Linked DNA regions of Homo sapiens: all the other regions are linked to region 1. Evidence: fine-mapped expression QTL. A gene starts in region 1. Each other region holds a variant in brackets. All regions are shown on one strand. Distances are from middle to middle.

Region 1 (5,997 bases):
TCCCTTTTTCCTGTCAGCTGAGACTCAGCATGTCAAAAGGATATAAAATATTTCCTCTTAACTGCTAATAGATGTTTAAAATTCTACTTTAGCGTCTCTCTTGCTGTTTTTTTTCTTTCGAGACAGCATATCGCTCTGTTGCCCAGGCTATAGTGTAGTGATATGATCATAGTTCACTGAAGCCTCCAACTCCTAGGCTCAAGTGATCCTCCTGCCTCAGCCTCCTGAATAGCTGGGACTGCAAGCACACACCACCACACTGGCTAGTGTCTCATTTTTTCAGTTAACTTTGTGCAATAGTGACATCATTAACTATCGTGGCAGCTTAAGAGATCTTAAGCTTGTTCAGTGCAGCCCTATCCCAATTCAGATATGGAGTTCTCTCCACCATGCCTTTAGGTATCTAATAGCTGCTTAGGCTTACGGGCATTGGAACATTGTAGAAAAGCAACCAAAACAGGAACTCCTCTACAAAAAGCAGTCTTGCTGGGTTTTCAGCTAGTGGTGATATGTGCGAAAGGAGCCACTGCACATCTTGACCCAGAGATAGTGGAAGGGGAGGGCATTCCTCTGAGAAGGCAAAATACTTGACTGGTTAAGTCTTCCAGAACCTTGAAAGGAACTTTTTTTTTCTTTTTTTAAGATGGAGTCTGGCTCTGGCACCCAGGCTGGAGTGCCGTGGCGCGATCTTGGCTCACTGTAACTTCCGCCTCCCGGGTTCAAGCGATTCTCCTGCCTCAGCCTCCTGAGTAGCTGGGATTACAGAAGCAAGCCACCACACCCAGTTAATTTTTGTATTTTTAGTAGAGACGGGGTTTCACCATATTGGTCTGGCTGGTCTCAAACTCCTGACCTCGTGATCCTCCTGCCTCGACCTCCCAAAGTGTTGGAATTACAGGCATGAGCCACTGCATCCGGCCTGAAAGGAACTTTTATCAGTGTATCTTCTCTCAGCTCCTCATGAGGCTTATCCTGGGTGGTGTGTGCTGGAGGCTGGGCAGAGGGTGCTTCTTAGACAACTTCCAAGGTAAGTTCATAGGCAACATTTCCTTTGCTACTCTCTCTTTTCTTCTCTCTCGTCCTCAGGATTACCCTCTGCATCTTTTCCATATGAAAACCCCATTTCCTCTTTCCTTTATTGAATGCCCCTCAAAATCAGAACTTACATCATTAGGCATTATTCTCTATTTCCTTGATGATATGGAGGATGAGATTTTCAGACACTATGCAGAGGTAAGGGGAAATATTTATATTCTGCATGAGAGTTGGGAGAGGGGAGAAAGAAATCCTCCACCCCAGATCGGGTTAATTCATCAAAGCAACTCATTAAATTTTCGTGTTAAAAGAAGTTGAACATTCACACTTCGCTCTACTTGGAGCTTCATTAAAATGCAAATGAACACAGAAGGGTATCTGTTCTTAGTTATCTGGCCTAACTAAAGATTAATTGCAAACCCTTTCCTGAGAGTAATTTTTGATAAATGAGAACTAGGGGGAAATTAGGTGCTTGAGAGAGATGCAGAAAGGGCACAGCTGGAGGATGTGACAAGAAAAGAATTGGAAAGACTATGGGAAGGTTTTGCTGTAGCACTGCACAACTAAAGTTATATTTACTTCCTAAACCACAAACTTAAAATACGCATATAATTATACTTTCCAAAGAAATATCATGGTTTATTCCTTCCAACTACCTATGAATCTTGCTCTCAGTAACCATGCCTGTCTTCTCCATAGTCACACCCACCTGGTCTAAACTATACCTTTCTCTTTTGCAACAAACTTAAATTCACTAACCCTATCTGTGAACTTGGATACAATTCCCTCATCTTTCATGTGCCACCAGTCCAAAATAAAGATTTTCAATGCTAGTAACTTTATGTATACCTCAGTGAGCATCCAATAAATTCTGTACTCTCAGCCTACATCCCCATAACTGCTCTTTTGAGAAGAGATGAGACCAGAACACACCTGAGATGTTCAAAGCAAAGATGTCTAAGGGATTCAAAGCTAACTTCAAACCAGAGCATGTCTAGCAAGTTGGCTTTTTCAAAGAACTCCAACATCATTGGAGGGACTAAGAAAGCATGGGAGAAATGAATGCTATAATAGGAGTGAATGGGAAGCAATTTGAGACCAAAAGTAGAGAATCTAAGTAGCAAAAAATGACCAATTTTGTAAAAAAATCAAAAGTTGCCAATAAATGGCTATCAATGAACAATAGGAAATGCCATTAGCATCAGCGGTAGTGGGAGTATTATCAGATATGTTACCCAAGGATTCTACACAAAGGAAGAGGAAAGTTTGGGATATTTGAAGACATGATGACTTTACTGTAATAATTATTATCTATTACCTTGATCGTCTTCTTCAAAGTTAGAGTGGTCTAGGGAAGCTAGGGACAAGTTTTTATTAACTTTGTTAGTCTACCCACCTTTCTCCCAACACTTCAAGAATTTGTGGCCTGGGAAAACTGTGTTATAATAGGACATCCCAAAGCTGCTGGAACATCCTGACGCTCTGAAATTGAAATACTTTTCTGGGAGCTGATACATTTATTTAGCTGCTGACCATAACACACCAAAGACTGCAACAGACCCCACCCTGGAAGAAAAGCAGGCAGAGAATAAGGAAGTCATATATCACTGGAGAAAAATTAGGATTCTCCAAGCTGTGCATACTTTTTGTTTTAAATTTTTTACACAGGCTTGACAATGTTTAGAAAAGCCAGTCCAACATTACCAATAAAAGATTAGTGTTTAACCCCATATCCCATAATTGACACTGCAAATAAGACATTTAGGATTTATCTTGAAATTCCTACTGAAGTTCGATTTTCTTTTAATCACTGCTAAATCTGCATCAAGTTACACAAACTTTCTAACAGAAAAGTGTTTGTGACTAACAATAAATGAACTCCGTTCTTAGTAAGTTAATTTTAAAACATAGATGATCATTCTATCTCCTTAGTTTTGGTTGCCAATGCAAATGAGTCAGAGGATTTGCTTCAGACACTGAGATAATTGTGTAACTCTACAGCGGAAAATGCCATTGGAGAGTACTTGCTGACCTCACAGTTGAAAAAAACTATTTAAAAGATGTGGAAACCAGATGTTTCAGTCACATTTCAGCCACTGCTCTGAGAATTTGTGAGCAGCCCCTAACAGGCTGTTACTTCACTACAACTGACGATATGATCATCTTAATTTACTTATTTCTCTTGCTATGGGAAGACACTCAAGGATGGGGATTCAAGGATGGAATTTTTCATAACTCCATATGGCTTGGTAAGAACCTTCACTCATGAGCCTCTTGTTGAGAATGTCAATTCTTTAAATCATGGAGAAGGAAATTTAAAGCAGTAACTTTTTCTATTCTGTACAAGGCTGATGTTCTCAAAGAAAATGCTTAGGAAAGATAGCCTTTGGAATACATACGCTTTTTTTTTTTTAAGCGTTCTTGTCCTCTAAAATTTAAAAATAGCATTTTATAAAGTGAATTGTTCAGTAGAAAATAGCAGTTAATATTTATATTCAGTATGAAAATATATTTTTAAACTTTTCAAAGCAGATGTAGTAGTACAGTGAGGAGTATTTCTTTAACCAACTAGAAACTCCAATATAGTCTTCTGTTTTTATGTCAATGCATTTGCAATCAGATTTCAGAATCCTAACAGGTAAATTGGAGTCTACGAAAATTTTATAATAATTGCTTCATGGACTCTGAGCTATAGTCTATATCTTAGTTTTTTCAAACATTTTGACTATTTTGACCAAGCCAGCTTGCAGTACAGAAAAAAGTGAAAAATGTTTCTCCTTCTGAATGCATTCTTACCACTTTGATTCTTTCTGTTTCTACTATCCATATAAATACTTTTCTGACCCTTTTGTTAGACAAGGAAAGTTTCTTTTGTTATTTTGTTTTGTTAAATGTAAGGAATGAGACAGGCCAAACAGTGAAGATAAACAATAGATCAAAAAAGGAAAATGCAGAAAATCCAAAACACCCCTTAGATTACAGTATGCTAAACAATGCTTTAATTCTCATGATACAAATTGATATTGCTCTATGTTCATTATTGTGTTTAATAGTAAAAAAAAATTGAATTTCTTGGGGAAAAATGCATAGATTCTTGCATAGAATAAAGAAATAAAGAGAAGGCGAAATTAACCTAGATTTTGATTTTATGCTTTCTAAACAGCACAGTTGTAGAATATTTTCCCTTTCAGCATGTTTCTCTCTGGTAATAACTGCAACCATGCGGATTTCATTAAAAAGCCTAATTTGTAATGCACAGCCTTGCCGCCTATTTTTTTCAGCTTGAGCCAGTGAACTAATTTCACTGTGATCCATTTGGCCAAGACGGGATCTGAAATTTAGTAGAGGAATGAGCCCATCTCTTTATTTTAGTTGAATACAGTCAAATATAGGAAATACACTCATATTTGTCAGGATTTTTTTTAAATGTCATAAAGCTAGTAAGAATTAAATCCAGGCAGATAAACTTTGAAATATTATCAAACCCTCTAATAATCAAGTAATTTAGAGTTGTCTTTTAAAGTGTTGTCATATGTTACAAAAATATAAACCTGGACAATAGAAGTTTTGCCCCAGAGGTAGAGAGAAGCAAATTCAAACGTCTATTAATGTATGCTACAAATCTGAGGGTCAGGATAATTGCAAATTGCTTCAATCTGGGGCAAATTTTTGACCAGCCAGCCTAGCACAGATGTTTATAGTTGGTTGGATCAATATAATCTTTTTAGAAACCATTTAGGAAGGAAAGATAGTTGGATTAGAAGGGATACATCTGTTAGCAACTATCAAGAACAGGACACTTTAAATCTAGGGTGTCCCATCTTTTGCCTTCCCTGGGCCACATTGGAAGAAGAATTGTCTTGGGCAACTCATAATTTTTTTTTTTTTTTTTTTTGAGGCAGAGTCTCGCTCTGTTGCCCACGCTGGAGTGCAGTGGCACCATCTCGGCTCACTCCAAGCTCCGCCTCCCAGGTTCACGCCATTCTCCTGCCTCAGCCTCCCAAGTAGCTGGGACTACAGGCACCCGCCACCACGCCTGGCTAATTTTTTGTATTTTTAGTAGAGACAGAGTTTCACCATGTTAGCCAGGGTGGTCTCAATCTCCTGACCTCGTGATCCGCCCACCTTGGCCTCCCAAAGTGCTGGGATTATAGGCGTGAGCCACCGCACCTGGCCCAGGGAACTCATAATGTTTTAAGAAAGTTTACAAATTTGTGTTGGGCCACATTCAAAGCCGTCCTGGCAGGCCGCAAGTTGGACAAGTTTACTTTAAATTCTCTAGGTTATGGTTCCAATCTGGTAAAATGATAAGGTTGAAGTAAAGGATCCCTAAGGCTTATTTTAACTCTGGTATCATCTAATTTTTAAAATAGTACTTAAAACAAAAACAAACCACAGTTAAGGACAAGAAATTACAATCATTTTACATGGATCATGAGAATAAAAAATGCACAGATAAGCAATTATTTTTATTGTTGAATCTGAAAAAGAAGGGAAAGGAAGGTGGGATGCAGTGGTTCACACCTGTAATCCTAGCACTGTGGGAGTCTGAGGTGGGCAGATTGCTTGACCCCAGGAATTAAAAAGACCAGCCTGGGCAACATAGAGAAACTCTGTCTCTACCAAAAAAAACACAATTAACTGGGTGTGGTGGTGCATGCCTGTAGTCCTAGCTACTCAGGAGGCTGAAGTGGAAGGATCACTTGAGCCCAAGAGGCAGACGTTGCAGTGAGCCGTGACCTCACCACTGCACTCAAGCCTGGGTGACAGAGTGAGACCTTGTCTCAGAGAAAAAAAAAGAAAGAAAGGAAAAGTGACGTATCTTGAGTTCCTTCTATGGTCCAGAAGCTATCATTAGTCCCATTTGACAAATGAGGAAACTGAGGCTCATCTGGTTATACAACTCCATGGTAGAAACAGCAGTGGAACCAAAGTCCATTTCTACTGCCGCCACTCACTAAA
Region 2 (5,997 bases), 59 kb before region 1:
GTTTTTGGGCAAGAAGACTTTCTGTACACCAGTGTTTGACAAACTTCCATGTCCATATAAATCAGCTGAAGATCATGTTAAAATATACATTCTGATTCTGTAGGATTAGGGTGGATATTTTGCATTCCAAAAGCTCCTAGATGATGCTGATGGTGCTGTTTCTTGTAAGAGGTGACAGCGTGCTGGCAGTCCTCGCAGCCCTCCCTCGCTCTCGGCGCCTCCTCTGCCTGGGCTCCCACTTTGGCGGCACTTGAGGAGCCCTTTGGCCCCGCCACTGCACTATGGAAGCCCCTTTCTGGGCTGGCCAAGGCCGGAGCCGGCTCCCTCAGCTTGCGAGGAGATGTGGAGGGAGAGGCGCGGGGGGAATCGGGGCTGCGCGCGGTGCTTGCAGGACAGCGCGAGTTACGGGTGGGCGTGGGCTTGGCGGGCCCCGCACTGAGAGCGGCGGGCGGCCCCGGGCAGTGAGGGGCTTAGCACCTGGGCCAGCAGCTGCTGTGCTCAATTTCTCGCCGGGCCTTAGCTGCCTTCCCACGGGGCACGGCCCGGGACCTGCAGCCCGCCATGCCTGAGCCTCCCCCGCGCCTCCGTGGGTTCCTGTGGGGCCCGAGCCTCCCCGACGAGCGCCGCCCCCTGCTCCACGCACCCAGTCCCATGGACCACCCAAGGGCTGAGGAGTGCGGGCGCACGGCACCGGACTGGCAGGCAGCTCCACCTGCGGCCCCCGTGCAGGATCCAGCTGGGCTCCTGAGTCTGGTGGGGACTTGGAAAACCTTTATATCTAGCTAAGGGGTTGTAAATACACCAATCAGCACTCTGTATCTAGCTCAAGGTTTGTAAACACACCAATCCGCACCCTGTGTCTAGCTCAGGGTTTGTGAATGCACCAATGGACACTCTGTATCTAGCTACTCTGGTGGGGACTTGGAGAACCTTTATGTCTAGCTAAGAGATTGTAAATACACCAATCGGCACTCTGTATCTAGCTCAAGGTTTGTAAACACACCAATCAGCACCCTGTGTCTAGCTCAGGGTTTGTGAATGCACCAGTCAACACTCTGTAGCTACTCTGGTGGGGACTTGGAGAAACTTTGTGTGGACACTCTGTATCTAGCTAATCTAGTGGCGACATGGAGAATTTTTGTGTCTAGCTCAGGGATTGTAAACGCACCAGTAAGCACCCTGTTGGACCAATCAGCTCTCTGTAAAATGGACCAATCGGCTCTCTGTAAAATGGACCAATCAGCAGGGTGTGTGGGTGGGGCCAGATAAGAGAATAAAAGCAGGTTGTCGGAGCAAGGAGTGGCAACCTGCTTGGGTTCCCTTCCGTAGCGTGGAAGCTTTGTTCTTTCGCTCTTTGTAATAAATCTTGCTGTTGCGCACTTTTTGGGTCCACACTGCCTTTATGAGATGTAACACTCACTAAGAAGGTCTGCAGCTTCACTCCTGAAGCCAGTGAGACCACGAACCCACCGGGAGGAACGAACAACTCCAGATGCGCCGCCTTAAGAGCTGTAACGCTCACCGCAAAGGTCTGCAGCTTCACTCCTGAGCCAGTGAGACCACGAACCCACCAGAAGGAAGAAACTCCAAACACATCCGAACATCAGAAGGAACAAACTCAGGACATGCCGCCTTTAAGAGCTGTAACACTCACTGCGAGGGTCCGCAGCTTCGTTCTTGAAGTCAGTGAGACCAAGAACCCACCAATTCCGGACACGCTTGGGCTACACTTTGAGTGACAAGGCTGTACACTAACTGGTTCACTAAAATCATGACCAGAGATTGTCATTCTGGTCGACGGGTTTTATGTGCCACCTGGCTATTACGAAGCGCAGAACCCTCTTACTGTTTCCAGCCTGGAGGCCGAGTCCATAGACGGAAAGTGAGGTATTTCTAGGTGTCCCTGTGTTTCATGAAGGGGCGGTATATGCAAAGCAGCCCCCAAATGCCAAAGGAGTTGAGCTACCAAAGAACAAGGCAGACAAATCCAGTTCGTCAGTAAGGAGTGTTTTAATGGAAAGTTAAGATGGAAATGTGGCGGCAAGGCAGATCTCTGCACTGTTGCTTCCCAGACCCAGGGCTTATATACCACAGGGAAAGGGTATACGTGCTCCAGCAAGACAATTAAAAGCAACCCTCCAAAACAGGCAAGAATGCCATATGCATTATAGCCTATAGTTTGTCTGATAATATCAGGTTTGACATGTTCTTACACTAAGGACAGTAAATAAATGAGGAATTAGGAGGCATTCATGGGACTGGGGCTAATCAGGACTCAATATGGCAGATCAGCATCCAAAATGGAGTCCTTTTGTCTCCACACCCTGGTGTGCTTTTCCTGAGGAAAGAGCAAGAGCTGTTCCTATCTTTCGTGCCATCTCCTTCAGAGAGCATTGGCTTCTTGCTTGTAGCTAGGCTGCCATTATAGCTACTCTGAGGGAAAGGAAGGAATAAACAGTGAGGGGAAATGAGTCAAAATGACACTAAAGAGTGGAAAGAGGAAGTAAGAGAA[G/T]CCAAGAAAAAAGAACAGGGCAAGTGTATATGGGAACTTGAAAGAGGTATTCTCTTCTCTTTCATTAATTATTCATTTCAATTTATTCTAAATAGTTTGCCCTAGTGTACAATGTAACAAGATAGAATGATCTCACACACAGGACTCATTTTAATAACATAATATCTGCATGGGGATGTTTGATAATGTTTAATATACAAAGGCAGAGTTAATTCATCCTTCTCAGGGCTTAAACCCGTCCAGGGAAATTGTAAATAAAAACAAGCTTCATCTCCGATAAAAATAAAACAGTGTCCTTCAGATCTTACTGCTTCGCGACTTTATGAATTGGAATGGAAACGTTGTTGCCTTTTGGGAGATTGACCTCAGCTGTTTTTCAACTTTTTGAAGAATAAGAACTCTAATTTTGGTGCCAATACTCAAATAGAAGTTTTCTCAGGTGGACAAACAACACCTGGTAGGCTGGTTTGTCATGGAAATTGCACCACCTTAAAATCACCAGGAGAACCAAGCTGAGTCTTTGCTTTGACCCTGACTAGCTCTGTGAACTTGGGCATATGTAAAGGATCTGGTATATAATAGGTGCTCAAAAAAATGTTACTACTGATCGCATTTCCCTTTAGCTTTCCGAGGGTCCATTTCTCAGTTTCTCAAATGTAAAAATGATGACAATAATGTTACCTACCAATTATAGGGTGTTTGGTGAGGATTAATTTAGCTAATGTACATAAAAATACTTTTTGAACAGTAAATGCAAAATTAAATAATATTATTAATATTAATATTGTCCTCTGATTTTAAGCTATAATTAGAAGAGTTGAAAGGGATGACTGTTGCATAGAGAAAATAATTTGATAGGTTAAAATATAAAATGCAAGACCTGAATACAGTCACCAAGACAACTGCATAAAATGACACTGGATGGGCACCACACAATGCCTCCTCATGTCCCCTCGAATTGTGCAGTGTGTGCCAGGAACGGATTCTGGGCTGCCAAGACTTAGTTGTTTGCTGATCTAGATTTAGATAGAACACATAAAAACAAGTCAGTCAGATAGTAAGTCTAAGATCTTTCTCTCTCACTCATTCTGTTTCTCTTATTTTTGCCATATTCTTTTTTTTTTTTTTTTTTTTTTTTTTGAGACGGAGTCTCGCTCTGTCACCCAGGCTGGAGTGCAGTGGCGCGATCTTGGCTCACTGCAAGCTCCGCCTCCCGGGTTCACGCCATTCTCCTGCCTCAGCCTCCCGAGTAGGTGGGGCTACAGGCGCCCACTACCACACTCGGCTAATTTTTTTGTATTTTTAGTAGAGACGGGGTTTCACTGTGTTAGCCAGGGTGGTCTCGATCTCTTGACCTCGTGATCCGCCCGTCTCCGCCTCCCAAAGTGCTGGGATTACAGGCGTGAGCCACCGTGCCTGGCCATTTTTGCCATATTCTTTAATGAACTGTACACGTAAGAAAGATGGGTAATATTGAGTGGGTTTTTTGTGATGTAGTCTCTGAAGATATACCAAGCAGCAATTGTTTTCTCTGCTGCTCATACAGCCCCTTTTATGTGGCCACAAACCTAATCTGGCCTCCTGCAAAGGGCAATGTGATCAGATGGCACAGATTTCTTAAAACTTGATTTCAAAAATTCTGCCCAGTTTCATTTCTCATGCCACAGCCAGTGTCTCTTTTTCCCCATACTCTCTTGCATGAAAATTCATAGTTGAATTTCCCGCAGGACTTTTCATGGGGCTAATCTACATCTGGAATTTACCCTGCTAATGATTCTCTTTCCTTTCATCCTGTATACTCGTGCCAGATTATTCTTCTAAAAGGGTCAGTATCATCATGTCATTCGACATGTTAAGCGCTTGCAGATGACATCCCATATATACAATCCAAATTCCAGAGTGTAAGATGTACACTCCCTCCCGTCACTCCCAATACCAAACTTTCCACCACAGGCTGGCTACAGTTTATCGGTAACTTCATCAGCCATTACTCCCTTCCACATCCCACTGAATTAGTCAGCTATCCAACTCCAGAACATACTAGGCCTCCTCTCTCTTACTATTTTCCTCCCCTAAGTTGTTTCCTCTTTTCTTTCTATTATTTCAGTCATACAGTCAGACAAGTGAACTTTCAACAAACCCACACACACACTATACATGCAGTGGTGATAGTGAAAACACAACTGCTCAGCATGGACATTGAACCATGAGAATGGCTCTCACCAGAGTGCTGGAGCAGTGTCCCAGAGAATTCTTTCTAGGCTGGCCATTAATCCCTCAGTTGCTAGATCTTAGGAAGTTCAGGGGAAGAGAAGTTGGGAATTCCTGGTGGAGGAACAGGTATGGCCAGCTTGGTGAAGGCGCTAGGATGGAGATGGGGGAAGACTGCTACTACTTACTAAATGACACAAAAATATTTCATTATTTAACAACTGGTCTAAACCTCTAGAGCATGCTGACTGAACACCAGTGTCAGGCTTTGCTGATGCATCTTCAGCCTCAATTTAAGCTCCTTTTCCAGCAACCCAAGGGCCACTAGTGATCCCTCCATTCTCTAAATTATTTTAGCACATTTTGTCCATACCACTTACTGGGCACATTTACAGCCTTGCATTGCTGTCTTTGGGGAACGATTATACAATTCATTCTCCCAAAGATGGTAATCTTTTCCAAAATAAGAGTTGTGCTGTATCTGTGTTTCTCCCAAAAATGTCTAACATAGTGCCTGTGGTTATTAATTTTATGGGTCAGTTTGACTGGGCTGTGGGATGCTCAGAGAGCTGGGAAAACATTATTTCTGGGCATGTCTGTGAAGGTGTTTCCAGAAGAGAGTAGCTTTTGAATTGGTGGAGTGAGTAAAGGAGATCTGCTCTTTCCAATGTGGGCAGGCATCATCCAATCTATTGAAGGCCTAAATAGAACAAAAAGGCAAAGGAAAGGTGAATTTATTCTGTCTGCTTGAGCTGAGACATCCATCTACTTCTGTCCTTGGACACCAGAGCTCCTGGTTCTCAGGGCTTTGGGCTTGGACTGTAACTACTCTACTGGTTTTCCTGGGGCTCCAGCTTGCAGATGGCAGATTGTGGGGCTTCTCAACCTTCACAATCACATGAGGCAATCTCTTACAATCAATCTCTTTCCATATATCTATAAATATCCTATTGGTTCTGTTTCTCTTGAGAACCCTCACTAATACGGTGCCCTTCTCAGGCAATCTTTTATCCTATGTGTATTAATAAAGGTTAATTGACTAAATGATTGGGAACTATTATACATATATCACACTGCAATCCCCCAAATCACTTCGAGAGTGAGGGAGGGACAGATATATTTGAGACTCTGATGAGAGCTAGGAATTCTTCTCCCAGAAGCATTCCTACATACACAAAACCTGCATGAAATTTCAGATGTTTCACTTACCACCTAAGCCATTCATAGACTCCTGGGAGTCCACGGAACCTAGGTTAAGGGCTCTAGTTTAAATG
Region 3 (5,997 bases), 77 kb before region 1:
AGAACAAAGGCCTGGGCTGGTGGCCTACCGAGAGAAATATTGGCCCAGTGGAAGTACATGGACTCTCAGGGTTTGGCTCTAAGCTCTGCAACTAACCGTATAGACTTTAAGCAAGTTAATTATCTTCTTTAAGCTTCTGTATCCTTATCTGAAAAATTTCTAACATGTAGCAAAAACTAACATCCATTAAGTTTGTATTAAGTGTCCAACATTGTGCTAAGTATTTTATCAACATTTCTCATTTAATACTCAAAGCAGCCTCATGAAGTAGGTACTACCATGAAGCACCTGTATAAAACCCTGAGGTTTATAAAGAACCTATCCCAAATCATGCTTCTAGGAAGGGACAAGGCTGGCACTCAAAGCCAGATCCTCCCCACTCAGGAACCCCCAGCTCTGAACAGGGGCCCTCACCATGGCAGACTTAGCAAACATTAGGTTTCATTCCAAATCTCTAGCTCCCAGGCTCTTCTCATTCGTTGGCTATGTTCCCTTAGGTAAATCACTTAAACATCCTCAGAATCTGTTTTCTTGGCTCTGGCATGTCTATATTTAAAGTACACAATAATAACTATCCTATCCTCCTATATTTATGGAATTGTGTGAGTATAAAATGTGATAATGTCTCTGAGAACTGTACAGCTCTACTACCTTGAAATATTACTATCATTATTTGGAGGTAGCATGTGGAGTAGAAAGAGGCTGGTATTGGACATCATCATAGCACCTGGATTAAGTCCCACAGTCATGGCTTTCTGAATACAAGATCATATTCAAGGCACTTGTCTCAGAGTCAGTTTTCTCATCTGTAAAATGGGAATAATCATACCTGCCTCAGAACGTCACTATGAGGATAAGAAATAATATAAGTGAAGTAATATTAGCGAAGTAATAGCTAAATGTCTATGAAAGTGCTTTCCAAATAACATGGTCATATTTTTTAACATTAGTCATACCTTCTTCTTTTTCAAAGGTGATAAGTGCTTGTCCTTTTTGTATCTCATAAGGAACTTTCGAGCTCACTTGAAACGAACAGGAGATATTTGACAACTGGCTGTCATTCTCAGGAGTTTCAACTGATAAGAATTTCATCTTTGTTTCAGGAATATCCTCTTTAATCTAATCCAAATGAAAATGTTTGATTAAAATCAAGACGAGAAATAACTTAAGTCCTTCCAATGATAATGTAATTTGGTCATCCAATAATTCATTCCCCACTAATTTTAGAACCTTGTAGAATATTGAGTATGGTCTTATTTAACATTTTTAGTAATTGCTTTTTCCCATGTAAGTACTCAGTAATCAAATGCTGATCTTTTAATATCATTTCACAGATGAAATTAAAAATATATAATCCTCTCACTTTTTTCTAATCAATGTTTAAACTGTCAATATTGTATGGTGTTCAGTTCTAAAGCCTACATCATTCATGTGAATAAGGACTTTTTAAACAAGTGCCAATAATAGACTATCTCAAAAGGAAATCATTAGATAGTATGTTTAATTTTGCTGCAAAGTATGAAATATAGTGTTGGGTATAATATGGTATTTCAAATCCAGATAATTTCATCCAAAAAGAAAGACTCTAGAATTAGATAATTTTATTTATTTATTTATTTATTTTGAGACAGAGTCTCACTCTGTTGCCAGGCTGGAGTACAGTGGTGTGATCTCGGCTCACTGCAACCTCCACCTCCCGGGTTCAAACAATTCTCCTGCCTCAGTCTCCCGCGTAGCTGGAACTACAGGCATGCGCTACCACACCGAGCTAATTTCTGTATTTTGTATTTTTAGCAAAGACAGGGTTTCACCACGTTGGCCAGGATGGTCTCTTGACCTCATGATCTGCCTGCCTTGGTCTCCCAAAGCGCTGGGATTACAGGCGTGAGCCACCACACCTGGCCCAGAATTAGATGATGTTAAATTTATCAAATTTAAAAATTCCACCTTCCCCAACACCTGCCCATCAACTTTTTAACCATTACCACAACTTAGGTTTATAAAAAATGAGAAGGGACAGTATCAACAGAAATTGTAAGCTGAGGCTACACAGGTGGCTCACACTCGTAATCCCAGCACTTTGGGAGGCCAAAGCAGGCAGATCACCTGAGGTCAGGAGTTTGAGACCAGCCTGGCCAACATGGTAAAACCCATCTCTACTAAAAATACAAAAATTAGCTGGGCGTGGTGGCAAACGCCTGTAATCCTGGCTATTCAGGAGGCTGAGGCAGGAGAATCGCTTGAACCAGGGAGGCGGATGTTGTAGTGAACCGAGATCGCACCATTGCATTCCAGCCTGGGCAACAAGAACAAAACTCTGTTTCAAAAAAAAAAATTGTAACCTGAAAGATAAAGGTAGGTGGTTATACTTAGCTGCTTAGAATTATTGGGATTAACAGATTCATATAACTACACATAAATGCACAAATGAGATAGATGCTTGCATTTCTATTGCCCATGGTTATTTTACATGCTGAAAATAACACAGAGATTAGAAATATTCAGTGAGTCATTCAATTTAATCTTACATTTATTCTTTGCCTTTATGCATAACTCCAGTGGAACTTCTGATTACGGTAAGGCTGACATCAAAACAGTCTACAATGTCTGAGTAAAGGCAGAGTGTTACCCAATAATGCAGAAATACCCAGTATATGCTGAGGAGCAAGGGCTTTCTGAAATTAGAGTGAGAAAGCTTGATTCTATTTCTGACCACACTGCGACAGACAGCAAATTTACTTAAGCTCTCTGATCACAGGTTTGGTCCTCTGCAAAGTGGGTCGACTAGGGCTGGC[C/T]GGTTTCTAAAGGCTCTTTGAGTTATAAGACTGCATGATTCTAGCTCCAGTCTGAGAAGTAACCAGAATCTTAACAGAGTCTTCTGCACAAAGTCACCCATCTCATAAACACAGAAAACCTCACTTCCTGATATTCAATATCCTATCTCCCACTTCAGAAACAAGAAGTGTCAATGCTTTAATTTTTTTTTTTTTAGGCGGCGCCTCGCTCTGTCGCCCAGGCTGGAGCACAGTGGTGTGATCTCAGCTCATCGCGACCTCCGCCTCCCAGGTTCAAGCAATTCTCTGCCTCAGCCTCCCAAGTAGCTGGGATACAGGCACCCGCCACCATGCCTGGCTAATTTTTCTTTTTTAGTAGAGACAGGGTTTCACCATCTTAGCCAGGCTGGTCGTGAATTCCTGACCCCATGATCCACCCGCCTCAGCCTCCCAAAGTGCTGGGATTACAGGCATGAGCCACCGCGCCCAGCCTCAATGCTTTAATTTTTTAACATCTGAGTTGTTAAGAAAAAAAATGGGTGAAAATTATGTACAATTAAAATACAGGAAAATTTAGGAGAGAATTTAAATGGTGAGGATTAATATATGTCCAATTTTTTGAACCGTGAAACTCATCTAAATTACCAAAGCACCTTGGATGAGAAGAATTATAAAAGAACTCAGTGAGAAAAGCCAGAATTTGATCCAACAGTAATTTGCTAATGACCATCTTTTTTTGGTAAATTTTATTAATTTTTTGTTTTTGTAAATTTATTAAAGTGTACGTAAATAATAGAAAAATGCATGTATCATTAAGTACAGCAAGATGAAATTTTACAAAGCTAACACACGTGATTGGCACGCAGATGATAGGCAGGACATGACAACACCCCAGAAACCCCCTTGGGTTCCCTTCTGGGTCTTACCTGCTTCCAAAATAACCACTGTTTTAACTTCAAACATCCTGCTTTTGCTTAATTTAAAGGGAAGCATATGGTATGCCCTCTTCTGTCTTTTTTGTGTTAACATTGTGTTTATGAAACTCATTTGTGTTGCTGCATGTCATTATGATCTGTTCATTCTCATTGCTGTGTAGTTTTCTATCATATGACTATACCCCAATTCACTAATTCGTTCTACTATGAAGGAATCATTGGGTTGTTTTCCATTTTGAACTATTACAAATGGTGGTGCCATGGATGATGATAAGGTTTTAAAAATGAATTTTGTGTAATTAAAATGCTTTTTCCAAAAACCATGCATCCATCAAAAATGTAGTATATAAAATAATTAAGAGAGTACCTGGAATTCTTTGGTAGCCTCTTGTAACTCCGTTTCAAGCTTTTGGATCTCCTTCTTTAGTTGAATATTTTTCTTTGTAATTTCATCAATTAGTCCCTTAAAAATATCAAATGGTACCAAAGAAAGTAAATAGCCCCTGAACTCATTTTTCCGAATGAACTAAAGACTATAAATTTCTCTCATCCTGACCAAAGAAAGACATTAGACAGTCTCAGAATAAATATGACTATGTGAATAATGCATTTGTTGAATATTTTACATCATCACCTGTCTATTCTAACATTGCCAAGTAGTACTATCTCCATTATATAAATCAGGAAACCACCTTTTACACTAGACCGAAGTCACAGAAAGTTGTATAGTAAGGCAAAGATTGAGATCAGATCTTCTGAATATTACTTCAGTGCTGCATCAACTCCTTTCCTAGCTATTTGTGAGCATGATAAGACTTTTAAATTGCACTGTAATAGCGGACATATTCTGGGGCAGTTTGTTGTTGGTGTTGTTGTTGTTTTTGTTCTTAATTATCTGTGATTCCCATAGTATCGCATAGTACACAGTTACCTTAATGAGCCAGACATATGACCTTGGGGAAGTGGTTTAAGCTACCTGGGCCTCCGTTCCCTCTTGGGGTCTAATGAGATAATTGCTGACTATGCTCTTAACTTGTTGATGCAAATCCAAGAAATGAGGGTGTGAGTGAGAAAGCAGCTAGTGTTGTAAGCCTTATAAGAGAAAGAATAAAAATATGACACTTCTTGTAAGGCTTAAATAACATAATGGAAGTTAAAAATTTTTTTAAAGCCTAACGGCCTCCCAAATTCAAGGTAATGTTGGACAAAGACATACAAAACATGCCTTACTGCAAAACTAATAGATATAAAATAATTTTTAATAATACCCAGTAATTTCCTTTTTACCTTATTTTGTTCATCTTTTATAAATTCATCTGGCGAATGCTCCTTAAGAATTTGTTGTGTGTCATCTTTATCAGCTTCCATGATCCCCTAATATTATAAAAAATAAATATTATAAGCATAGCATATATACACAAATTTAAGAACAAAGAAATAAGAACTTTTACCCTTTTATGGAAGAAACATCTCTTCTTTGCTATATCTTTTTTTCCCATCATCAAAGGCTTTATTATCATATGGCTTATATCCAAACAAAGTCTGTATTTTAATAACTCCTTTTTTTTTTCTTTTTTTGAGACAGAGTCTCTCTCTGTCGCCCAGGCTGGAGGGCAATGGTGCGATCTTGGCTCACTGCAACCTCTGCCTCCCAGGTTCAAGTGATTCCCCTGTCTCAAGCCTCCCAAGTAGTTGGGATTACAGGTACCTGCCACCATGCCCGGCTAATTTTTGTATTTTTAGTAGAGATGGGGTTTCACCATGTCGGTCAGGCTGGTCTTGAACTCTTGTCAAGTGATGCACCCCCCTCGGCCTCCCAAAGTGCTGGGATTACAGGCGTGAGCCACAGCACCTGGCCAATATTTCAAATAACTTTCACACCTATAATATATAAAAAGATTCTAAAAATCCTTTGCTTTTCAACAAAATAATATATAGAAAGTAATGAACATTAATGTTCCTTTGTAGTTCACATTCCAACCATAATATCATGCTCCATTTTAAATGAATACTATTTTGGTTTTCCAACGTTTTTCAAAGTTTTTGATTAAAATATTTAATTCTCCCTATTGTTCTCCCCAAATGTAAACAAAGTCAAGAGGCCTCCAACATATGCTTTCTCTACGCAGGTGTTCTTACCTGAAGCTTTCACTAACTCTCCTGCTGGGTCCATAAACATGGATTGGGAAGAAATTATATGTTTATTTCTAATAACCTCTAATTGAAGCTTAGCATTCTCTTCAATTATGAATATGGTAACAAACTACAGTAGTATTCACAGCACCTGT

Evidence for each region. PIP is the estimated chance that this variant, and not a neighbour inherited with it, causes the effect. A credible set is the group of variants that fine-mapping cannot tell apart.
Region 2: its variant is the best candidate, but not a certain one, in a credible set for the expression of TNFAIP6 in whole blood (TOPMed, PIP 0.64).
Region 3: its variant is the best candidate, but not a certain one, in a credible set for the expression of TNFAIP6 in whole blood (INTERVAL, PIP 0.84).

The regions. Positions count from the first base shown.
Region 1 is chr2:151,354,477-151,360,473 of GRCh38, forward strand. TNFAIP6 (TNF alpha induced protein 6) reads left to right here and starts at 3,116. Exons shown (of 6, transcript NM_007115.4): 1 at 3,116-3,284. The coding sequence starts at 3,191. All of the region lies in intron 2 of LOC101929319 (a long non-coding RNA gene), which reads right to left.
Region 2 is chr2:151,295,662-151,301,658 of GRCh38, forward strand. No RefSeq gene overlaps it. Among named protein-coding and RNA genes, the nearest start is that of NMI, 9.0 kb to the left of the region's middle. The variant G/T (reference allele first, on the strand shown) is at 2,513.
Region 3 is chr2:151,277,872-151,283,868 of GRCh38, forward strand. NMI (N-myc and STAT interactor) reads right to left here. Exons shown (of 8, transcript NM_004688.3): 2 at 4,997-5,083; 3 at 4,077-4,172; 4 at 957-1,119. The coding sequence starts at 5,077. Among named protein-coding and RNA genes, the nearest start is that of NMI, 8.8 kb to the right of the region's middle. The variant C/T (reference allele first, on the strand shown) is at 2,796.